7 linked regions of the Homo sapiens genome follow. The protein of the gene in region 6 purifies or fractionates together with the protein of the main gene of each other region. This does not show direct contact. Each region holds a gene or a part of one and is shown on either strand. Other genes may lie near its edges.

The links.
Region 1: the proteins of HNRNPR (region 6) and CNBP purify together in Homo sapiens (affinity purification with mass spectrometry; 2 studies listed by BioGRID and IntAct, with this or other methods). This does not show direct contact.
Region 2: the proteins of HNRNPR (region 6) and SMARCA5 fractionate together in Homo sapiens (co-fractionation; one large-scale study listed by BioGRID). This does not show direct contact.
Region 3: the proteins of HNRNPR (region 6) and NBEAL2 purify together in Homo sapiens (tandem affinity purification; one large-scale study listed by IntAct). This does not show direct contact.
Region 4: the proteins of HNRNPR (region 6) and KIAA2013 fractionate together in Homo sapiens (co-fractionation; one large-scale study listed by BioGRID). This does not show direct contact.
Region 5: the proteins of HNRNPR (region 6) and SEPTIN9 fractionate together in Homo sapiens (co-fractionation; one large-scale study listed by BioGRID). This does not show direct contact.
Region 7: the proteins of HNRNPR (region 6) and ODF2 purify together in Homo sapiens (co-immunoprecipitation; one large-scale study listed by IntAct). This does not show direct contact.

The regions. Positions count from the first base shown.
Region 1 is NC_000003.12:129,167,327-129,170,611, reverse strand, and holds the end of CNBP (CCHC-type zinc finger nucleic acid binding protein), read left to right. Parts: intron 1-41; coding exon 42-159; 3' UTR 160-2,785; downstream 2,786-3,285. UniProt on the Homo sapiens protein: Single-stranded DNA-binding protein that preferentially binds to the sterol regulatory element (SRE) sequence 5'-GTGCGGTG-3', and thereby mediates transcriptional repression. Has a role as transactivator of the Myc promoter.
Region 2 is NC_000004.12:143,527,202-143,530,701, reverse strand, and holds part of SMARCA5 (SWI/SNF-related matrix-associated actin-dependent regulator of chromatin subfamily A member 5), read right to left. Parts: intron 2,835-3,500; coding exon 2,679-2,834; intron 2,120-2,678; coding exon 1,988-2,119; intron 245-1,987; coding exon 176-244; intron 1-175. UniProt on the Homo sapiens protein: ATPase that possesses intrinsic ATP-dependent nucleosome-remodeling activity.
Region 3 is NC_000003.12:47,006,934-47,010,201, forward strand, and holds the end of NBEAL2 (neurobeachin-like protein 2), read left to right. Parts: intron 1-132; coding exon 133-222; intron 223-307; coding exon 308-417; intron 418-591; coding exon 592-764; intron 765-882; coding exon 883-977; intron 978-1,136; coding exon 1,137-1,253; intron 1,254-1,349; coding exon 1,350-1,508; intron 1,509-1,586; coding exon 1,587-1,735; intron 1,736-2,055; coding exon 2,056-2,191; intron 2,192-2,285; coding exon 2,286-2,387; 3' UTR 2,388-2,768; downstream 2,769-3,268. UniProt on the Homo sapiens protein: Probably involved in thrombopoiesis. Plays a role in the development or secretion of alpha-granules, that contain several growth factors important for platelet biogenesis.
Region 4 is NC_000001.11:11,919,091-11,921,259, reverse strand, and holds the end of KIAA2013 (uncharacterized protein KIAA2013 precursor), read left to right. Parts: intron 1-927; coding exon 928-945; 3' UTR 946-1,669; downstream 1,670-2,169.
Region 5 is NC_000017.11:77,396,499-77,399,998, forward strand, and holds part of SEPTIN9 (septin-9), read left to right. Parts: intron 1-485; exon of another isoform or gene 486-556; intron 557-3,500.
Region 6 is NC_000001.11:23,341,485-23,345,535, reverse strand, and holds the start of HNRNPR (heterogeneous nuclear ribonucleoprotein R), read left to right. Parts: upstream 1-1,251; 5' UTR 1,252-1,325; exon of another isoform or gene 1,326-1,962; coding exon of another isoform or gene 1,963-2,025; intron 2,026-4,051. UniProt on the Homo sapiens protein: Component of ribonucleosomes, which are complexes of at least 20 other different heterogeneous nuclear ribonucleoproteins (hnRNP). hnRNP play an important role in processing of precursor mRNA in the nucleus.
Region 7 is NC_000009.12:128,494,006-128,497,505, reverse strand, and holds part of ODF2 (outer dense fiber protein 2), read right to left. Parts: intron 2,997-3,500; coding exon 2,838-2,996; coding exon of another isoform or gene 2,775-2,837; exon of another isoform or gene 2,666-2,774; intron 1,466-2,665; coding exon 1,365-1,465; coding exon of another isoform or gene 1,209-1,364; intron 1-1,208. UniProt on the Homo sapiens protein: Seems to be a major component of sperm tail outer dense fibers (ODF).

The sequences.
Region 1 (3,285 bases), on a different chromosome or scaffold from region 6:
TTTCTGAGGCCCATTGTGAAAACTTTTAATTTCTTTTTTAGGTGTGGTGAAACTGGTCATGTAGCCATCAACTGCAGCAAGACAAGTGAAGTCAACTGTTACCGCTGTGGCGAGTCAGGGCACCTTGCACGGGAATGCACAATTGAGGCTACAGCCTAATTATTTTCCTTTGTCGCCCCTCCTTTTTCTGATTGATGGTTGTATTATTTTCTCTGAATCCTCTTCACTGGCCAAAGGTTGGCAGATAGAGGCAACTCCCAGGCCAGTGAGCTTTACTTGCCGTGTAAAAGGAGGAAAGGGGTGGAAAAAAACCGACTTTCTGCATTTAACTACAAAAAAAGTTTATGTTTAGTTTGGTAGAGGTGTTATGTATAATGCTTTGTTAAAGAACCCCCTTTCCGTGCCACTGGTGAATAGGGATTGATGAATGGGAAGAGTTGAGTCAGACCAGTAAGCCCGTCCTGGGTTCCTTGAACATGTTCCCATGTAGGAGGTAAAACCAATTCTGGAAGTGTCTATGAACTTCCATAAATAACTTTAATTTTAGTATAATGATGGTCTTGGATTGTCTGACCTCAGTAGCTATTAAATAACATCAAGTAACATCTGTATCAGGCCCTACATAGAACATACAGTTGAGTGGGAGTAAACAAAAAGATAAACATGCGTGTTAATGGCTGTTCGAGAGAAATCGGAATAAAAGCCTAAACAGGAACAACTTCATCACAGTGTTGATGTTGGACACATAGATGGTGATGGCAAAGGTTTAGAACACATTATTTTCAAAGACTAAATCTAAAACCCAGAGTAAACATCAATGCTCAGAGTTAGCATAATTTGGAGCTATTCAGGAATTGCAGAGAAATGCATTTTCACAGAAATCAAGATGTTATTTTTGTATACTATATCACTTAGACAACTGTGTTTCATTTGCTGTAATCAGTTTTTAAAAGTCAGATGGAAAGAGCAACTGAAGTCCTAGAAAATAGAAATGTAATTTTAAACTATTCCAATAAAGCTGGAGGAGGAAGGGGAGTTTGACTAAAGTTCTTTTTGTTTGTTTCAAATTTTCATTAATGTATATAGTGCAAAATACCATATTAAAGAGGGGAATGTGGAGGACTGAAAGCTGACAGTTTGGACTTTTCTTTTTGTACTTAAGTCATGTCTTCAATAATGAAAATTGCTGTTAAAAGGATGTATGGGATTTAGATACTTTTGCAAAGCTATAGAAAATTCACTTTGTAATCTGTTATAATAATGCCCTTGAGTTCTGTGTTCAGTCTGAACAGGTTTTTTGGTGGTGGTGGTTTTGTTTTGTTTTGGAGACGGAGTCTCACTCTTGTCGCCCAGGCTGGAGTGCAGGCTTGGCTCACTGCAACCTCCACCTCCCGGGTTCAAGCAATTCTCCTGCCTCAGCCTCCTGAGTAGCTGGGATTACAGGCACCCGCCACCACCCCCCGCTAATTTTTTGTATTTTTATTTTTATTTTATTTTTTTATTTTTTTTTGAGACAGAGTGTCGCTCTGTTGCCCAGGCTGGAGTGTAGTGGTGCGATCTCGGCTCACTGCAAGCTCCGCCTCCTGGGTTCGTGCCATTCTCCTGCCTCAGCCTCCTGAGTAGCTGGGGCTACAGGTACCCGCCACCGCGCCCAGCTAATTTTTTTTTTTTGTATTTTTAGTAAAGACGGGGTTTCACGGTGTTAGCCAGGATGGTCTCAATCTCCTGACCTCGTGATCCGCCCGCCTTGGCCTCCCAAAGTGCTGGGATCACAGGCGTGAGCCACCGCGCCCGGCCTATTTTTTGTATTTTTAGTAGAGACTGGGTTTCATCATGTTGGTCGGGCTGGTCTCCAACTCCTGACCTCAGGTGATCCACCTGCCCCGCCCCCCAAAGTGCTAGTGTTACAGGTGCGAGCCACCGTGTCTGGCCGATTCTGAACAGTTTTAATACCATTGCTATTTTTGTGTTTTTCCTGGGCCTTTTTTTTTTTTTTTTTTTTTTTTGAGACAGTCTCGCTCTGTTGCCCAGGCTAGAGTGCAATGGTGCAATCTCAGCTCACTGCAACCTCCACCCCCCACCCCCACACCCCGTTCAAGTAATTCTCCTGCCTCAGCCTCCCAAATAGCTGGGATTACAGGTGTCCGCCACCACACCCAGCTAATTTTTGTTATTTTTAGTAGAGATGGGGTTTCACTGTGTTGGTCAGGCTGGTCTCCAACTGTTGCCCTCAGGTGAGCCACTGTGCCCCACCTTTTCCTGGGTTTCATAAGGATCTGAAGTGGTGGATTCCTTGTTTTTGCTAGTGTCTCATTTAGAGTTGAGATGGACCTTAAAACTCATCTGTTTTAACTCACTTTTTAATAGATGAGTTAAACTTAATTTACTTAAGGATGTACAGTTAGAGCCTGGAACTTCAACCATTATTCACTCCCCATGCCCTGTTTCCCCCCACTTCGAAATTAAATGCGGTTAGCATCATATAGTTCATTTTCCCCCTCCATGCTGCTGTGTGATTCTTGACTTTGGGTATGAGTTTTTCATCCTTCATGCAGGGTTCTGTCAGTTCATGGTATAGTGATTCAGTGTTAAAATGGTGGTGTCTCAGCTGTGCTGTGCACATTCCAACCTTGTCAAATTAATAGTCCTGAGCAAGCAAGAAAAAGAGGTAATAACATACCCATTTCTTTATGAATATAAGCTTATAATATTTTTTCATGTGCTATTTTTACTGAGCAAATTGTATGTCTCACATGTTAACACAATAAATATCTTGACAATTTTATTTTCTACCATATGTATGAAACAGCATAAGGAAAGACTTTTTTTCGAAGGCATCACTGTTAGGTTGGGGGAAAGATTTATTTTTGAAGGCATCACTGTTAAATGAGGTTTGGGGGCTGGTGTGCACATGGAGTTATTTCCCCCCAAATTCTGGGCCTCATGTAGGAAAACCTAAAACATAGCAAATGGGATATGTTGTTATGGCTCTTCAGGTCAGCTTAGTTCTCATTAATAATACTTTCTCCTGCGTTAATCACAGCTTTGTGTGTTGGGAAGGGAAAAAGTAAAGTGGGTTGGTTAAAATTTAGAACTCCTTTGCTTCATGCACCCATTCCTTGTGCTGAATTTGTAGTACTTTAGTTGCTTTGTGAGACCTTTTGAAACAACATAATTAAGGACCTATTCACAGGAGACTACAAAGTGTTCCTTTATAAGATAAAATTTATTTGCATTGACCTTGATGACTGGAAAGCAAATGCAACATGAAAATGTGTATTTTAC
Region 2 (3,500 bases), on a different chromosome or scaffold from region 6:
ACCACACATCACCCCCTACACTGATTGTAAGATGTAAGAGTTAAGTGTCAGAATTCAAGCAGATCTGATTCTTAAGCCATTGTGTTTTTTATTAACAGGAAAATAATCTACTAATTTAAACCTTTATCCTTTTTCCCATCATAAATATGCTTTAACACTACTCCAAAATACTTACCATATGAAGCCTCTCAACTAGTTTTTGATCCCCAAGGCAGTTGTTTGTATCAAACCAGGAATCAAAGTCCTAGATAAACAAACAAAAAATATACTCAGATCAGAGATAATATTAACAAATACCCTATAATACCAGATATAGAAATGATTTCTAGAATTAGTAATTTGAATTGTAACCCACAAAAAAAAATCACTTAGTCCAATCCTGGTTTTCATGTGTCATTGTTACTAATTTTAAAACAAGTAGTTCAGAAATCACACTACCTTCTAAACATTCTTCTCAAAAACATCAAAATAACAAGTTTCACAGTAAAAAGTTGGAGAGCAAGTTCTATAGGATTAGAAAATTAATATTCTTGTAAAGTATCTTTCAAGTTTCATAAAAGCTTGAAAATTAAAACATTTTATAGTTTGTTCTCTGAGACCATTCGCACTACTCAAATACAAGTTTACGAACAATGTCAATTTTAATCAAACTTACTAAATGAAATTGAAATTACCAGCATTTCATTAATATTTGGTTACGATTTCAACAAGGGCAGTTTCCCTAACCTCATCTCTTGAACATATGTATTATATATGTGCTTTGTTTTTGAGTAAACATAATCTTAGAATTCACTGCTTTAAAGTAAATGAAAGTGTCAATGTAGTGAGAAACAGGAATTATCTCAAAAACATCAAAATACATAAAATCGAAGCTAAAATTGCTTTTGGAGTCTGATTAAATATCTTTTTACAACACAATCTATTCTTTCAAAACAATCTTCAACAGAAAAAAAACAAAATTAATTAATACCTTTTTATAACTTAATTGTACAAAAATATACTAACATGGAGCTCTTCAAATCCCTCCAATACACATAAGACGCCAGCTATGCAAACAAAGCTTCAAAAATAAACACTGGTCCAGGCAAAAAAAACTGCAATTTCTAATAGCACAAACTCTTGACATAGTTATTATATTACTATTAACAGTTCAAATAGCTAATTAACCATTACTATCCTTTCTATGACTATAAATAATCCATAAAGATTAGGTTCTATTTGTTTGTTAGACTATAATATAAGAAAAGCCAGACAGATTTCACTAAATTTGACAGTCATCCTTGGGACTTAAAACATAAGCAATGTGAGGTATACAAATCACTTCAGGAATACCTTGAGCAGCACCTTAAAAACATAACCAGTCAACCTAGAGCCACTGAAACAAAGTCAGGCCAACCTGACTTACCAAATAGGAGTGACAATTTATGCCATTTCAGATAGAGAAAACAATGATTTAAAGAAGACTGAGGCCTGGTGTGGTGGCTCGTGCCTGTAATCCCAGCACTTTGGGAGGCTGAGGCAGGCAGATCGCTTGAGGCCAGGAGCTTGAGACCAGCCTGGACAACATGGCAAAACCTCATCTCTACAAAAAACACAGAAACTAGCCGGGCATGGTGGCACACACCTGTGATCTCAGCTATTCGGAAGGCTGAGGCACAAGAATCACCTGAATTCCGGAGGTGGAGGCTGCAGTGAGCCAAGATCACACCACTGCACTTCAGCATAGGTGACAGAGTGAGACTACGTCTCAAAAAAAATAAAATAATAATAATAATAATGAAATAAGATTGAAACCAAAGGCACAAAAGTAAATTCCCATTATACAGAGACAACCTAGGAGATAACACCAGGCTAACTATGTAAATAAAAGCATAAAAAATTAATAATAACCTCAAGCCATGCTAAAAGGCAGGCCACTTTTATTACAAAAATATATAGCATTAAGCAAAATATTATTATTAACCAGAAAGCACCAGGAAATACTTACATCTGCTGAATTAAACACATCTGGCAACAGAAAGTTAAGAAGTGACCACAGCTCATGCAAGTTGTTCTGAAGAGGTGTTCCAGTTAATAATAGTCTATTTGTAGTCTTGAATTCCCTCACTATTTCTGACAACTGAAAGAAAAGAACCAAATACACCATTAGAATATTCTGCATATTGCATTATCTACAACAGCAAAGACCTGGAACCAACACAAATGCCCAACAATGATAGACCGGTTAAAGAAAATATGGCACATATACATCAGCGAATAGTACGCAGCCATAAAAGAGAATGAGTTTATATCCTCTGCAAGGACATGGATGAAGCTGGAAGCCATCATTCTCAGTAAACTAACACAGGAACAGAAAACCAAACACTACATGTTCTCACTCATAAGTGGGAGTTGAACAATGAGAACACATGGACACAGGGAGGGGAACACCACATGCCAGGACCTGTCGGGGAGTGGGGAGAAAGCAGAGGGAGAGCATTAGGACAAATACCTAATGCATGCGGGGCTTAAAACCTAGATGATGGGGTGCAGCAAACCACCATGGCACATGCATACCTATGTTAACAAACCTGCACGTTCTGCACATGTATCTCATAACTTAAAGTTAAAAGAAAAAAAAATCTGTACTTTAATCAAATTCTTACATGAAGGCTTTTCACATCTAAGTATCAAATTACCTTAGATTTTTCATTTTTGATCCTGTGAGCTTCATCTATTACTAAGTATCTCCAATTAAATTTTTTGAACACAGACTTCTCTTTAATAAGCATTTCATAAGATGTTACACATACATCCCATTCTCCCGGTAATAAAACGTCTCTGACAAAAGCAGCCTGTGTAACAAGAGAAAAAAATTACATCACGTAGAAATAAACTACGCATTACATTTACTGATGACAAGTAATCTAGTATATAAAAAGAGGTGGGAATACTAAAAAGGAGTAGAGTAGCTAGCTATATTATGCAAACGTTTAGAACCAGCTTTCCTAAGACTAAAGTAACGTCATTAATCATTTAAATGTCAGAACCATTAAGTTTTAAAAAACTGACAAAGTTAACCAGTGAAAAATTCAATAGACACTTAAAATGTCTTTCTGCAATTCCACTAGATCGGGAAATTCTTAGGAGGCAGGTTTAGACAAAAAAGAGGGAGGTTTTAACATAAAGAAAGGAAGAGGGTGGAAAGATAGTTAGCAGTAGTAGGCATCTGCATTCCTTTCAGGTTTATAAATGTATTAACACATTCCTAATAGTATTATTTTAAAGGTAAGGAAACTGAAGCAAAGACTGGTTAAGTAATTACCACTCTTTGGGCTCCCAAACAAACAAACAAAAATTGATAACTTAAAATATCCAACATAACTAGAAAGGGAGAGAAAAATATAGACTTATCACTCACAGGTAAATGAAGAGGAAATAAAAAACAAGTACACAGCTATTCAGTAGAGTCTGAATAAATTTCCAAATCTGAGCTTTATATACTAATGTCATTATTTCCA
Region 3 (3,268 bases), on a different chromosome or scaffold from region 6:
AACCTCTGCATCTGTGACACCTACTCTATGACCCCTGGGGACTGACAGTAAAGGAAGGGATGATGCTTCAGGGAGCAGATAGTGTAATCTGATAGTACTCAGGCATAGCTAGGCCTGCCCTTGCCCCTGCAGGTTGTCAGTGATGGTGTACCCCTGGTGCTAGCCCTGGTCCCCCACCGGCAGCCCCACTCCTTCATCACCCAGGGTTCCCCAGACCTGTTGGTAAGTGCATTGTGCAGAGCCCCAGCTCAGCTCCACTCCCCCTTGCCTCTGCCAGAAACCCACCTCTGCCCCCTCCTGCCTGCAGGTGACTGTGAGTGCCAGTGGGCTGCTGGGCACCCACAGCTGGTTGCCCTATGACCGCAACATAAGCAACTACTTCAGCTTCAGCAAAGACCCCACCATGGGCAGCCACAAGTAGGACAGAGGGCTGTGGGTGGGGTGGGCTACAAATGCCCTGCACCCGGAATTATTCCCCTCCCTAATCAGAATGTAGGCCAGCTGCAGGGGAAAGGTCTGGCCAGGCTCCCTGAGGGCCTGGGTCTCTTCCATGTGGCCTGGCCTCACTTGCTATCCCCCTCACTGGGTCAGGACGCAGCGACTGCTGAGTGGCCCGTGGGTGCCAGGCAGTGGTGTGAGTGGACAAGCACTGGCAGTGGCCCCGGATGGAAAGCTGCTATTCAGCGGTGGCCACTGGGATGGCAGCCTGCGGGTGACTGCACTACCCCGTGGCAAGCTGTTGAGCCAGCTCAGCTGCCACCTTGGTATGAACAGCCTTGGAGCTGGGGAGAATGAGGCACACAGGTATGGGGCCGGGTTCTGAGGCTGGCCAGGGCGGATGTGACTCCTCCGTTCTGCCTGTACCCTCCCCTTCCCATGCAGATGTAGTAACCTGCCTTGCACTGGACACCTGTGGCATCTACCTCATCTCAGGCTCCCGGGACACCACGTGCATGGTGTGGCGGCTCCTGCATCAGGTGTGCCTCGTGGGCAGCTCTGTGGGGCCCCCGTAGCCCAGACCTGCAGCCCATCCGTCCCTCAGTGGCCTTCCAGTCCTGTCCTCCTCTAGTCTTGGACAAGGCCTTCATTTCCTGAGCCTCAGGGGACAGTCCTAAGCCAACCCTGGTCCTCCACAGGGTGGTCTGTCAGTAGGCCTGGCACCAAAGCCTGTGCAGGTCCTGTATGGGCATGGGGCTGCAGTGAGCTGTGTGGCCATCAGCACTGAACTTGACATGGCTGTGTCTGGATCTGAGGTGTGTGTATGCATGTGCCCTGGGGAGGGTGAGTTTCCTGGGCAATCCCCCTGGAGCCCAGACTCCTGCCCAGGACCCTAAGTTGCCTTCCTGCAGGATGGAACTGTGATCATACACACTGTACGCCGCGGACAGTTTGTAGCGGCACTACGGCCTCTGGGTGCCACATTCCCTGGACCTATTTTCCACCTGGCATTGGGGTCCGAAGGCCAGATTGTGGTACAGAGCTCAGCGTGGGAACGTCCTGGGGCCCAGGTATGGGGAAGGGGTGCCCAGCAAAGATGGAGGGGCAGTTGGGATCCTGTCCTTGCTGACACTCCCTGCTTCCTCCAGGTCACCTACTCCTTGCACCTGTATTCAGTCAATGGGAAGTTGCGGGCTTCACTGCCCCTGGCAGAGCAGCCTACAGCCCTGACGGTGACAGAGGACTTTGTGTTGCTGGGCACCGCCCAGTGCGCCCTGCACATCCTCCAACTAAACACGTAAGCCCCCCATTTATGGGTTCATGGCCCCTGAAGGTGGTGGTCATTGGTGTAGGATAAAGGCCCTAGGAACCCACACACCATACATGTTTGTGGGCACATATTTCAAGGTTTGTTACCTGTCCCTTCATCTTCCCATGGGGAGGTCTTGCCCTGGGCCTCCGCTTAGCCACAGTTGTGGGAGATTTCTTTGTGTATAAGAATTTCAATTTAACCATCCTTAAAATGAGGACAGAGAGGGTATATGGGATAAGGGATATCTGCTGGTCGCAAAGCCCCCTTGCAGTCGCAAGTTGGTGTATATCCCCTCTCCCTTCCAGACTGCTCCCGGCCGCGCCTCCCTTGCCCATGAAGGTGGCCATCCGCAGCGTGGCCGTGACCAAGGAGCGCAGCCACGTGCTGGTGGGCCTGGAGGATGGCAAGCTCATCGTGGTGGTCGCGGGGCAGCCCTCTGAGGTGAGGATGGGGCGGGGGTGGGGAGGCCCCTCGAACGGGGCGGGGCGTGGCGCGGCGATCCCAGCTGATCCTACTCAACCCTTACGCCCACCAGGTGCGCAGCAGCCAGTTCGCGCGGAAGCTGTGGCGGTCCTCGCGGCGCATCTCCCAGGTGTCCTCGGGAGAGACGGAATACAACCCTACTGAGGCGCGCTGAACCTGGCCAGTCCGGCTGCTCGGGCCCCGCCCCCGGCAGGCCTGGCCCGGGAGGCCCCGCCCAGAAGTCGGCGGGAACACCCCGGGGTGGGCAGCCCAGGGGGGTGAGCGGGGCCCACCCTGCCCAGCTCAGGGATTGGCGGGCGATGTTACCCCCTCAGGGATTGGCGGGCGGAAGTCCCGCCCCTCGCCGGCTGAGGGGCCGCCCTGAGGGCCAGCACTGGCGTCTGCGGCCGCAGCAGCACTTTTTGCACAGTCTGGGGCGGGGTTCCCCGGCTTCCAAGTCGCTGTTTCGTCAAAGCACGAGGGCCGCCTGTGGCCTTAATTCCTAACGGCGGCCCCGGTTCTCCCTTCTCGGCAATAAACCAGGCCTAGTTTTGTAGCTGCTCCGTCTCCGAGTGTGCGTTCGCGCGCAGCGTCTCGGCCTGCCATGGCCACCGTCCCAGGGTCGCCGTCTGAGTCTGGCCTGGCTCGCGTTCCCCTGGCCCGTGACCCCCTCTGGGCCCACTCGCCCCCCCTCCGCGTGGCCGTCGCTGAACTGGGGCCTCAGTTTACCCGGCAGTGTAGCCCCTGCCCCACATCTCGCCCCGGCTTGTGGTTTCCCCACGATCTCTTCATGGGGTCGCCTTCGCACGCCATTCGTCCACAACCGCAACCCGGCCAGGCGCCCCGCAGGCGCGTTTGCATTCCTTCGCCGGGCAGGGGCGACAACACCCGAGGCCGCGCCCCTCCAGCTCGGCCCTGCCACCTCATTGTCTTGCCTACTTCTTGGGCCGCCCTGTGGCGCCGCTGTGGTCTCGGGGTTGGGGGTGGGGGGCCAGAACCACCCCAGAGAGTCCACGTTGTCTTCCCGGAGGGCTCGGTCCTGCCCTGCTGAGTGGA
Region 4 (2,169 bases), about 11 Mb from region 6:
CAGCATTGCTGTCGCGGGGTGAGGCTGCCTACTGTGCCCTGCCGCCCGGCCTTCTGTGCTTCCTCAGGAGAAAGACCAGCAGGGATTCCAGGGGGAGGCCTTTGTTAGCAGTTGTAGAAGAAAATGTTTCCCAAAGAGCTGAGCTGTTTCCCTTTCTCTTCTCTCCTCCTGTATCCCGTCTCCTCCCCTCTACTCTTCCTCCCCTCCCCTCCCTTCTCTTCTTTTCTCCTTTATCTTCTCTTTTTAAACTGTAGTGACAGTAGAGAGGTATATTAGGCTCTGCGTCTGTGCCCCCAAGTAGTCAGAGAGCCCAGATCCCACCCTGGAGAAATGGGAAGTGTCCCATCACATCCACAGGGATGCCTGCGGCTTCTAGTTTCTGGCCCAAGACCAGGACTTGGAAAAGGAAGCAGAACTTGACCTGAAAGAGCAGAAGAGTGGGAGACAGGGCTGAGTTCCTCAAGTTCGAAGAAAAATCAAAAGTCAGATCAAAAAGGACTGCACAGAGGCCTTCCTTGTGAGCCGCCTCTGAACTAGCTGCACTAGGACAGGTGCCAAATGTGCATCGTGTGGGTTTTGCCGTCTGTTTGGCAGGCGGCTGCTTTTCCCTGCTGCTTGGTGGCTTCTCTGCCCTCGCTCTTGAGTGCACCTTCGGTTCCTCCCACAGTTGGGCAAATGAGCCAAACTACCTTCATGGGGTACTGACCGATCTCTCCTTGACTTAGGCTCAAGCTGGGCCATGCCAGAGTGGAGCCAGTGAACACTCAGCTCCAGAAGGGCCCAGGCCACTGAGTCCGTGGTAATTCTGCAAGGCTGGGTCAGAGCCAGGGTGTGGTGCCACTAGGGTTGTCTCCGTAGCCTATTTCTATAGCTGGCCACTGGGGTTGGCAGTGAACAGTAATCACACTTGTTTTGTGAATTGAACAGGAAGATCCCAGTGTCTGAGTGAACTAACAGTCCTGCTTTCAGCCACCATTTGCACAAGACACCCAGCACTGAAAGTCCCGCTGCCAGGAGCAAGGGATCCTTTGGAAGCACCCGCCCTTTGTGCCTTGTTGGGGGAAACCGGTGACGCAGAAGTGAGTGTGGATACACCAGAGTTTGCATTGGAAGGAATGAGTGTCACGTGGGGAGGGAAGGGGCCAGTGGACCTTTTGTAAGCTTTCCACTCAATAAAATGAACCTGTATGGCAAATACTTGAAATGGAACTCACTCCTTCCACTTTCCCCCTTTCTTCTGTCCCAGGAAATAGATCATCTTTTGAAAAGACTCTTGTCTAGGAAAAGTTGTGTCCTTTTCCTAATTTAACGTGTTCTTTCTTAATGAAGTTTTAATTTATTTTTGTTGAGATTTTGCTAGATGGCTTTTGCATCCCCTGTAGATGGTGAGTGTTGGCGGTGATGTCCATCTCGGCGTTCGGAGGCCCCACGGTCCCGAGGCTGGGCCGGGGCCCCCCAGGGTGGCTGTGCTGCTGCCTGTAGGAGGGTGCGGGTTGTGCTGTCATCCTCGGGTTTGCACGCCCTTTTTTAGGAGCCTGTGGACATCTGTGGTTTTGTACTTTGGGGCTTCAGGGGAGGTGTTTAACTTTCTAGTGATTGATGATTGTCAGGTTTTGAAATACCAAAGCTTTTTTGTTCTGTTTTTAAATAAATATCTTTCAAACTTTCACGACCGGTTTGTGTGTGGTTGAAACCTGGAGACATGCACCACGTCTGCCCTCAGCACTAGATCTGTCAGAAGCAGGACACCCACCCGGCCCTGCTGTCACAATGCTATTCCTTTCTGGTATGTTCTACCTCTCTTCAAAGGAGTCTGCCCAGAAGATGTGTTGTTTGCCACCTTTCTGCTCGCCAGGGGGTTGCTGAGTGGCCCTGCTGAGTGGGTTGCTTCTGGCATTACCCTAGCTCCTTCCCTGCTAAGATGCCCTCTCCCCCACCTGCCCTAAAGAGCCAGGGTTCTCCTGCCCTGGGTTTTGCTGGCTATAGGACGTCAGCAAGACAAACCCTGAGTGGTTCTTCTCCAGGTTGTCTGCTGAAGCCACCATCAGATGCCTCCCCTCTGTGGGGAGGAGAAGGGTCCACTCTGGGGACCAAAAAGGGGCCGAGCCGGGCATGGCAGTCCACCTGCGGGGCTGTCCTCAGCGTCTTGGCGTTTAGACTTTCTCTGCG
Region 5 (3,500 bases), on a different chromosome or scaffold from region 6:
AGTGACAAGGACCTGCTACCCCTGGGCAGGTTATGCCGGTTCCACTGTGAGGATGGTGGCAGGGGGCTTCCCAGGAGGCCTGCACATTGGGAAGAGAGGGGCGACCGTGTGTGACTGCAGGACCCAGGGCGCAGTCTTAGGACTCTGATGGGGGAGGAGATGCTGGGGAGCCCTGTTCTGCCAGCCTGGTGACAGACATCTCCTAATGTTTCCCGGCTGGGTACAACTCACAATGTCCTCCGTGGGGAGGCAATTGCCCATGAGGCATCCCTGGCAGGGATGATCTTGTTTCATTGCCACATATCCCAGCAATGAAACAAGAATCTAGAGTGATGTGATTCCTCCGATGACTTCTCCAACCATCTGGGGTTTTTGTGCGACTCCAAGAAGGGGGAAGGAGGCAGCTCTCGCTCCTCTGGGCTCCTGATGTGGCAGCTCTGGAATGGCCACGTGTCCGTTGGCCCACAGTGGGCCATTTGTCGAATGTGGTTGTGGTGGGATTGGGGCTGGGCTGGAGAGTGGGTGACCACACCAGCTAGCCTCACCCTGGGCCACTGTGCAGCCAGGGGTTTCATCTTCCCAGGGGTCTCGTTGTGAGTGTCCTGGGGCTGCTGGAACAAATTACTGGAAACCAAGTGGCCCAACAAAGATTGATTCGCTCATGGTTCTGGAGGCCACAAGTTTGACATCAAGGTATTGGCAGGACCACACTCCCTCCGACAGCTCGAGGGGAGGACCCTTCCTTGCCTCCTCCAGCTTGCGTTGGCCCAGGCGCTCCTTGGCTCTGGCAGCATCTGCAGTCTCTGCTCTCATCACGTAGCCCTCCCCACCGTGTCTCTTTGTGTCCCAAGTCCCCTTCTGCCTTTCTCCTATAAGGACACCGAGCACTGGATTTAGAGCCCATCCCAAATCCAGGATAGTCTCATCCCGGGATCCCTAATCACATCTGCAAAGACCCTTTTTCCAAATAAGGTCACATTCGTGGGTTCTTGGGGTTAGGTATTAGACATGTCTTTTTGGGGGTCACTAGTCAACCCTCTACAGAACCTCAGACGAAAGTGAATCTTCACAGGCTGAAATGGGGGTGAAGGTCTAGTGCGTCCCTCCTCCTTGGGAGCTCCCTCAGGGCTTGTGCCTATCCTGTGATCCTGTGATCCAGCCTTTTTTTTGAGATGAAGTCTTGCTTTGTCGCCCAGGCTGGAGTACTGTGGCACGATCTGGGCTCACTGCAACCTCTGCCTCCCGAATTTAAGTGATTCTTCTGCCTCAGCCTTCCAAGTAGCTGGGATTACAGGCGCCCACCCCCATGCCTAGCTAATTTTTTGTGTTTTTAGTAGAGACAGGGTTTTACCATGTTGGCCAGGCTGGTTTCGAACTCCTGACCTCAGGTGATCCGCCTGCCTTGGGCCTGCCTTGGCCTCCCAAAGTGCTGGGATTACAGGCATGAGCCACCACGCCTGGCATTTAGTAGGTTTTGGTTGTTTTTTTTTTTTGAGACAGAGTCTCACTCTGTCATCCAGGCTGGAGTGTAGTGGTGTGATCATGGCTCACTGCAGCCTTGATCTCCTGGCCTCAAGTGATCCTCTCACCTCAGCCTCTCGAGTAGCTGGGATTACAGGCATATGCCACCACCCCTGGCCAATTTTTGTATTGTTTAGTGGAGTCGGGGCTTTGCCATGTTGCCCAGGTTTGTCTTGAACTCCTGGGCTCAAGCGATCTGTCCACCTTGGCTTCCCAAAGTGTTGGGGTTACAGGCGTGAGCCACCACGCCTGGCTTAGTAGGTTTTCTAGAAGCGCCTGAGGCCTGGTGAAGGCATGGTGTCATGGAGTAGAGAACATTCAACTCTGTTCCCGGGGAGCCGGAACACACCCCTCGTAGCCAATCTCAACAGTCATGACGTGGCCAGGATGACATGGGGAGGGGGTGGTGTGGACTGTGTGGGAGGCCAGCTCCCCGGGAAGGGGGCTGGAGTGGGCTTGGCTTTGAGGAGGATTCCCAAGAGGAGGAGGAGGCGGTGGCATGCTCGTTTGGGGGGATGGCGTGAGCCAGGGTGGGCACCTCTTCATTTAGGTGTCACCTTCTTGACATTCCAGCCGGGACATGGTTTCCTTGGGGAAGATGGACACCCCCAGAGTGGGGCATCTCCTGGGGAAGATGGACACCTCCGGAATGGGGCGCCTCCTGTTCTCACTGTTCTTCTAGCACACAGTTGTATTCTCTTGCAGTTCTGGAGGCTGTGAGATCTCCTGGCTGTTATCTAGAACAAACTCGCCTTTGAGCAGCGCCGTCCTGATGGTGGGGTGGCCCCTGCGGGTGGAACAGCCCCTGCTGTCTCAGAGCTTACTGAGAGCTAGTGGGCATGGGAGTGGTGCTGGACCGAAACACCCAGAGGGATCATAGAGCCAGGCAGTAAGCACAGAGGCCAGCTAGTGGGGAGGGAGGGACCCATCCATGAAAAGACACCAAGCATTGAAAGAGAGGAGAGGATGGTTGGGGACCGGCACACATGTGCATTTTGCGCAGATGGCCAAGGTGGTGAGGCGCCAGCCACGCAGACAACTGGAGGAAGGAGGAGTGCCCTAGGGGAGGGGCCAGCTCCGGTTCTAGAATGATCCGCTTGTGCACGTGGGCCTGGCTGGAATAAATCATTGCATCCGCACCGTAGACTCAATCGTAAGCTCACACCAGGGCAGCCTCTGCTTTGGTGCAGTGTCTTCGATCATGAGTTGGCCATGGTGGGGGTGACTCCAAGGGGACTCCCAAGGAGGGGGTTCACCGGATCTCCCAGGGAAGGTCATTTGTTTTCTTGGGTTGGACCTGGGACAAGGCCTTCTCCTGTCTAGTTTCTGTTCTCCAACTTGACCGCACGGAAGGATGCTGAGGACACCTGGAAGCCGGCCCCTGCTCTACAGCACCCATAGGACAGAGGCACACCATGTGGGGACAGTTTGGACAGTGCTCAGGAGGCAGGGAGCAGATCAGAGGACCGCGGGAGGCCCTGGGAACCGCACGAGGACCCAGGCATTGAGCTCTGCACTTTCTGGCATCAGCCCGATGTACAGTCTGGCTCTGTGTCTACCCCGTACTTCACTTTCCCCATCTGTACGGGGGCGGTAATAATATTCTTTACAGCCCAGGTTTAAGCGGGTGTAGATGTGATGAGCTTGGTAAGCCCATCTCATTACATTCAGTTCTGGGCATTGAACCCTGGACTTTCTGGCTGGTAGAAGTGGACATTCAACCTTTCCTTGGGGCCCTGGGGCTTCTGCAGAATCAGAACACAGCCAGCAGTTTGCATGCAGGGTGCAGAGGGACAGAGGGACACCATGTCGGGAGCCCACACCTGGCACACCCCTGACTCTGGGGCTCAGTGTCCTGCTGCCCTGCGGCCACGTGATCAGCTAGAGGTCATGGCTGGACCCATAGGCGAATACAGCCTGTGGATTTGATTTTGTTTGGCCCTGCGGTGTTTTATTTTATTTTTAGTTTTAGTTTGTGG
Region 6 (4,051 bases):
AGGGTTTCACCATGTTGATCAGGCTGGTCTCGAACTTCTGACCGATACACCCGCCTCGGCCTCCCAAAGTGCTGGGATTACAGGCATGAGCTACCACGCCCCGCCCGTTTTCAATAATTAAATATAGGTTTGTAGGTTCTGAGAAATTTAATCATCCTTGAGTGCATCTGGAAATCTGCAGACCACTGCTTGACTTCCTCCACTTCCTAAGGGTGGGGCATTGGAGTTTGGGGTTGGGAAAAAAGCGCTTGCACCACAGAAGTGAGTTCGGAAGGTTTCTATGAGACGAGACAGGTTTGGACTAAGGACAGGGAACAAATCAGTAGGAATGGCAGGTGAGAAATAGGTTTAGGACTAACACGAATTATAGTGTCCTTTGGGAATTACCCCTTTCCCCTGCATGGCTCTTTTGGCTTCAGAGATGTATATAGCTGCTTTATTTTATGAATATCAAGTAGCTCCAAACCCTGTGGGGAAAAGCTCCCTGCTCTATCACTTGTGTTACACATTGCTTTTGAGTCATTTTAACGATTTCCCTCACAGTCTGCCACCAACGATGTGTGGACGGCAGCCAGGGAGGGAAAGAGGCATTTCTCCGATCGTTCCAAGGAATGATTATCTAGACAAAATCCTCAGCAAAATGACGAGCCAAATCATCCTTAAATCGTGTGCTCACTAGAGGCGAAAAGATGACCGAAAGAGGCCCGAACGCGTGGCTATGGGCGTGTCTGGGGGGAACGCCGGCCGCGGGGGTGCGAGGGAGGACTCGGGGGCTAAGGGCGGCCGGTGGCGGGACGCAAGCGCCATGGCGGAGCTGGGCCAGTGCTGACCATAGGGGGCGGGGCTCCGGAGGCGGCCACGCGGCGCGAGGCCTAGATTTTCGGCCTCGCATCGGCGGCAGACGAAGAGGGAGGAGCTTCGTCCACCCAGGACCCAGCGCCCCCAAGCCTTGCAGCCACCAAGGGCTTCCACCACAGACCCCTTTGTGTGCCTGCCCCCGCCCCGGAGGCGCCCCAGCCAGGGGCGCTGAGCACCCTCATTGGTTCAGCCGGCAGCTTCATCGATTGGCTCTCGAGTCGTCCGGCGTGGTCCGTTTTGCCTGGATACTACTGGTCGTCTGAGCTGCCTGTCAGGCCGCCTCGCCAAGCGATTGCCCCGTAGCTCGGAGTCCCTGGAAGCAGTTCCGGGAAACCCCGCGTGCTGCCGGGATCGCGTCTCAGTCCATCAGGGGGGGGAGGGGGTGGCGCGCGCGCCATTTCTAGTCGTTTTCAAAGCGCCTCGCGCTGATTCTCACGGGCCCGGCTGCCGGCCCCCGCTCTGCCCTGGTGAGTCTCGCGCCGGCCCGTGGGGGGAGGGGCCGGGAGCCCCGATGCGACCCGACTCAGCCCGGGCTCCGTGCCTGGTCCCGTTTCGTTTGCGCTCCGAGGCCCCGGGGTGGGGGTGGGGACGGGCTGGGGGCGGCTTCGGTCTAGTCCGCCCGCGCGGCTGTGGGCCTAGCCCGGCCGAAACGCTTCTCGCCCTCGCTCTTCCTCCCCCCGCCCCTTTAGCCCGCGGTCCGGCCCGCTGGGCGCTCTCCGCGCGGCCTGCTGGGGCCGGCCGTGCTTTTCCCGCCTCCGCTCGCTGCTCCATGCGGCCGGATCCCGCGAAGGGCCTGAGGCGCCCGCGGCCCTGCCGCTTCTCCCCGCCGGAGCCGCTTCGCTCCCGCCGCGGCCGGCCTAGCCCGAGAGGGATGTGCTGATGATCCGGACGGGCCTGAGGGGATGGGGGTGGGGGGCGGAAGGCGGGGTGCAGATCCCAGGGTTATCTGAGCCGGGAGAAAAGTTTTGTGTGAGCAGAAACCGAAAGGCCGATTTGTGTGGGAAGCCTCCCTCCCCTCCCACATTCTGCATGCCGCGGGCTGAGATTTGAAGGAAAAAATGACTACTAGAGGCCGTAGAACTTAGGCTCCAAGCGGCGCCTGAAATGGATAATTCTGAGACTGTCAGAGGCGCACCAAATTGGAAAGGCGATCCTTTTTCTTACACGGTAGTGGCCGTATTGCCAAATTTTTAAAAAAGCCCAGGGCTTCTTGGAAGGTTCAGTCCTTTCACACTACCTGTTTGAGATTTTTGCAGTCCTCAAGTGGCTGAATTGATGTCTCATGAGTCAGTCGTAGGATGAGAGCTCGACACTCCTAAGCCATGAGATAACCGTTAGTCTCATTTCGTTGGTTCTTTTAAAGCCCGTCTCTTAATATGAAGAATTTGCACAGAGAGGTTCAGAAAAAGTCAGGGAGGAGTTAGTGCTGACATCCCGAATCTCCCAGCAGCCCTTTTAAATCTTTAAATGTCTCCTTTTTTTTTGCAAAAATGTTTAGATCAAATGACTCCAGTCACGTTAGTATATTTGCTGCATCCAGAAATATGGTTTGGCTGTGTGGCATTGTGTTGAATGCCACATTTGAATGAGTTTCAAATGGTCTCATATGACATAAAAAGTCTTTTCAAAATGAGCATTTTGTATTTGGCTTGAAGAGAGAGGGCTTTCCTTGATCCGAAGGTTTTATTTTCTGGAATCTAATTATTTTACGGTTTTTTTGTTAAAATTTACAAACTTTTTTTGAAAATTTTAACCAATTTCAGTATCAACTTGTAGAGCCTTTGCAATGAAATGGTAGGCATAAATATTTCTGTCTTGTACTTAATACACAACTTGTCTTTTTGCTTTACACATACTTAAAAACCCCACCTTAACAGATGTTCATTGAACTTTTCTGTTAAAAATTTGCCTCTTTTCTGTGACTGATAGTATTCCTAGGTACAATGCTGTAAGGGTCTTGTGATACTGAGAACTTTTGAGTTCTGATGATCTTAAGGTAGTATGTGGGGATGGGGGAGCATGGGAAAACAGAACCTTATGTTCGCAAGGAGATTTTGTGTTTTAGGATGCATCTTTATAGAAATAGGTCGTGTTAATCAGTAAACGTATTCATCTCACACAATACAGTTTCTTGATCAAAAGTGTGACATTTCGAATGTTTCCGTTTTTGCTAGTTCATCAGAATTTGAAGCTTGTCTTGAGAAACATCCACCCAGAATTTAACCACAGTCTGCGTCTATTAAGGGCTATCGAGTCTTAATAGTGTTTTGTAATTGTGAGGAGTCATGTTTATCTCATTTTCAGAGTAATCCTTTGCATTTTCTTCTTCTTCCTACTCTCTATTACCTCCTTCCCCTCTTGGTCTTCCTCCCTCTTTCGTTAACTTCAACTAAGTATCAGTGGACTTTGAAATGAAAAGAAGTTGTTTTAAGCCAGAAAACTGCACCTGGTGCATTTGCACAATGTTCGATAAGCTGTCGGGAAGTGTGGTTATCTTATGTGTCTTAGTACTTTGTAGGAGACTTGTATTTTCTTTATAGATGACTAGGTATCTTGAGTTTCATCAAGAAAAGTAGGCTTTTTCTTGAGATCCACCTTTATGTCTTTTATTTAGTATGTGTTGCAATGTCTTGTTCTGCTGCCTATTATCTTCATCACATTGTAATTTCACCACAGACAAATGCACTTTAATTCCCTGTCTTTTGAGGCAGTACACAGACTGGCCTTGTATGGTTTATTGTTTACTCTCTCTCTTCAGGGAGTCAGTCCATTTCAGCATTACCTACAGGCTGAATGTACAAAATTATTTTTGATAGGTTAATCTGAGAAATCTGGCTGAAGTTTAGCCTAATTAGGTAACGGTTTTTGAAATATTTGGAAGAAGTTGTCCATTCTTCAGTATGTTTTTACATCTTTATTTTACTGATATGAAAATTTCAACATGTACTCTTTTTTTTTAAGAAGCAACCTAAACTATAGCTCACTTAGTATTTTATTTGGACTGAAAACAATTGTTTCGCTTTTAAACTTGGTCATTTTTTCTTTTAAATCTGTGGGAATAGCGAATTAATCTTAGAACAAAAATTAATGTCAAGTTGGTTTTTTTTTGTTTTCGTTTTGTATTGTTAGGTGGAGAAAACCCAAACCACCAGCATGTTGAACTAGAGAAAACAGGGCACTTATTTCACACCGA
Region 7 (3,500 bases), on a different chromosome or scaffold from region 6:
CGCCCGGCTAATTTTATACATATATATATATATATATATATATATATATATATATATATTTTTTTTTTTTTTTTTTTTTTTTAGTAGAGACGGGATTTCACCGTGTTAGCCAGGATGGCCTCGATCTCCTGACCTCGTGATCCGCCCGCCTCGGCCTCCCAAAACGCTGGGATTACAGGCGTGAGACACCACGCCCGGCCTCTTGCCTACCTCTTAGAGATGCTCACAGAAGCTCTCGAGGAAGACAGTCACGGGTCTAAGTCATGCTTTGCCAGGTACCAACAGTGTGATGCTGGGAAAGTCACTTAACTCCTCCCCAAGCTCAGTTTCCTCATATTTAAAACTGGGATAATACCAGCTAACTAATAACATGTTCTAAGCTATACTGAGCGCTTCTCTATGCCAGGTAACATGCTAGGACCTTTACCAGGATTATATCATTGAAGACTCACACCACCACCATGAAAAGATTATTATCAGCCAGGTGTGGTGGCTCCCGCCTGTACTCCCAGCACTCTAGGAGGCCTAGGTGGGTGGATCACTTGAACCCAGGAGTTCAGGACCAGCCTGGGCAACACGGCGAAACCCCATCTCTACAAAAAATACAAAAATTAGCCAGGCATGGTGGCATACGCCTGTAGTCCCAGCTACTTGGGAGGCTGTGGCAGGAGAATTGCTTGAGCCCAGGAGGTCGAGGTTGCAGTGAGCTGAGATTGCACCACTGCACTCCAGCCTGGGTGACAGAGTGACATGATAGATAGATGATAGATAGATAGATAGATAGATAGATAAACTCTACCTTGACCCTTTCCTCAAAAGGAGGAAATTGAGCTTCAAAGGAATTAAATGATTTGCTCAAGATCACAATGCTGGTAAGTGGCAGAGCTGGGCCCCAAGGCCAGGGCTTCTGATTCCCAAAGCCGTACCCTTCACCTCTGACTGCCTCCAACAATCCGTAAATAACAGAGAACGGTCAGATCAGAAAGGTCTTGGGAAGGGTGACTGGCAAGAAAGGGCAGAAAAGAGTGGGGAAGTGCCCCCACCACAGTATACTGGCTGCTCCATTCAAACTGGGCCCTCCTGGCAGGCCTGGACCAGGCATGCCTTTTGGGACAGGTGGTGCCTACAGGTGGGCAGATCCTGATCATGCTGTCATGGAGTGTCTCCCCAGGCTGAGAGGCCCCCTTGCTCTCTCCCACAATGCTTACCACTGAAATGGAAGCAGCTTTTCCTCTGAGGTCTGCCTAGTACCTTCCAGGGCCTCGAGTCCCTCAACACTTCCGCACACTAAGCAAAAAACAGCTAAGTGGCTGAAAGTCTCAGGTCCTAGGAAGAGGACAGAGATGGGACCAAGTGCCTCTAACCTCTCCAGTTCATCCACCTTCAGACTCAGCTGTTTATTTTCCTTCTGGGAAGCCTGATGTTTCTCTCTCGCCATCTCCAGCTTGTCCCCCTGGTGTTCGATCTAAAATGACAGGAACACAGACTGGTTTACAAAGGAATTTCCCGCTAGAGCCCTCCCCTTTCCCTATGACCTGTTGTCCACACCCAGGAAAGGGGCACAGTGCCCTCAGCAGGTGTCCAAGTCTCAACGCACAACCTAGAGGAGAAAGGACAGCAGGGACAGGTTAGGCCCAACTCCAAAGACAAAAGGCTCTCCCCACACTGGGAGAAACCAGGTTTGATGCTAAAGAATGACAAAGATGCTTTCTCGATCAGGGGAGGCCACTCAGAGAGACCCAGCTAGGATCCAGGACAGACATGAGAAGGCAGAAACAGCTGGCAGGGCTAACTGGCCCATACAAACCAACCACAGAGCTTTACCTGTTATGTTGCTGGTACTATTGATCTCAACCTCCTCTTAACTGGGGACAAGTGCAGGCAAGACAACAGGAAATCTGTCAATCCTTTTGAGTTGGCAAGTTTGAGAATTTACCCAGAGGGCTGTTTTATGCAGAAGCCTCAGCTATCAAGGCTCAAAGTCCCTGAGAATGCTCAGGTTCAACGGAGAAGGCAGGCAATGTAAGGTTACAGTACTGAGAATGTGGGCTTGGGAACCAGACAGAGCTGGCTGGGTTCCAATCCCTGCTTACTAGGTACTAGCTCTGTGATGGTGGGGAATTACTTCTCCTCTCTATGCCTTGGGCTGCTTTCTGTAAAATGGGGAAAATAACACATGCACCTCACAGAGTTCCTGATGGAATTAAATGAGAGAATGCAGGAACACAGAAGAGGTGCTCAAAAAATGGTAGCCCCTTTTCTAATTATCACAAGTACACACGTCAAGAGTGGGAAAGGGGCCTTGCCCAAGGTCACGCTGCAAATGAGTGGTATATAATTTCTTGGACACTGCAGGCCGTAGGCATGGTTCCAGTAACCCAGAGACAGACTGCTTCTGGGAGAAAGGGATGCTTGCTTCTTTCAGGACAGAATCTCAGGCAGTGCATCTGTTAAAGAGTCAGGAGAAGCAGCTAAAGCAAGAGAAAAAAAGAAATTCTACGGCTCGGTGTCTGCTGGCATCTCCCAGCTGTGGGTGTGGAGCTGAGGACAGCTGCGGAGCACACAGGCAGAGGCAGCAGTCTTGGGTGGGGGCAACAGCAGGAGGGCCCAGTGACTCCACGCAAGTGACGGCTCCTATAACTACAATCACTTTGTGCAAACACATGGCATTTGGCACACCAGACTTTTATTTCACAGCACTGATGATAGCTCACTCCTTTTAAAAAGCAGCAGCCAAGAAAAAGGAAGTAGTCCTCCCTTGGGGGGCGTGCAGCTCATCTTGGTATGCGGGCCCCTGCTCGGGTCAGTTCGTGGGACCCTTTCTGCCAGTCCCTTACCCGGCTGCGCAGGTCTGATATGATGGCTGTGAGGTCGATGTTCTTCCGCTCATAGCCCTGCAGTTGGTCTTGGCACTCAGCCAGCTTCGCCTCCGTGATCTTCAGGATGTCAGGGAGCTGCTGCAGGTCAGCCAGCTGAGACTGGAACTGCCTTCGTGCCTGAAACAGGAAGGAAAGACCCACAGGAAGGAAAGACCCACAGTTAGGAAAGACCTGGCTCCTAGTGGAGCCAGGCAGAGTCCTTTAGAGTTAGGGCAGGGCTGACACAGTCCCCAGTGGAGGATCCTGCAAAATCCACAGCAGAAGTGTGGCCTACACTCCCCGCTGGCCATTGAGCAGGTGGCTTGCCATTCATTTAGTTATCCCGTAACAATGGCAACCACACAGTAAACACCAAGACCCAGGCATTGTACCAGGGGCTCTCTGCACACTTGCTCATTTAATTCAGACAACCTGTAAAATAGGTGATGCTGTCCCCATACAAGTATAGTAAGCATCAAGAGAGCTAAGTCATTTGCCCAAGGTCATTCAGCTAAAAACTGGTAAACACAGGATTAAAGTCTAGTCTAACTCCAAGCCAGGTGCAGTGGCTCACACCTGTAATCTAGCACTCTGGAAAGCCAAGGGGCGCAGATTATTTGAGGTCAGGAGTTCGACACCACC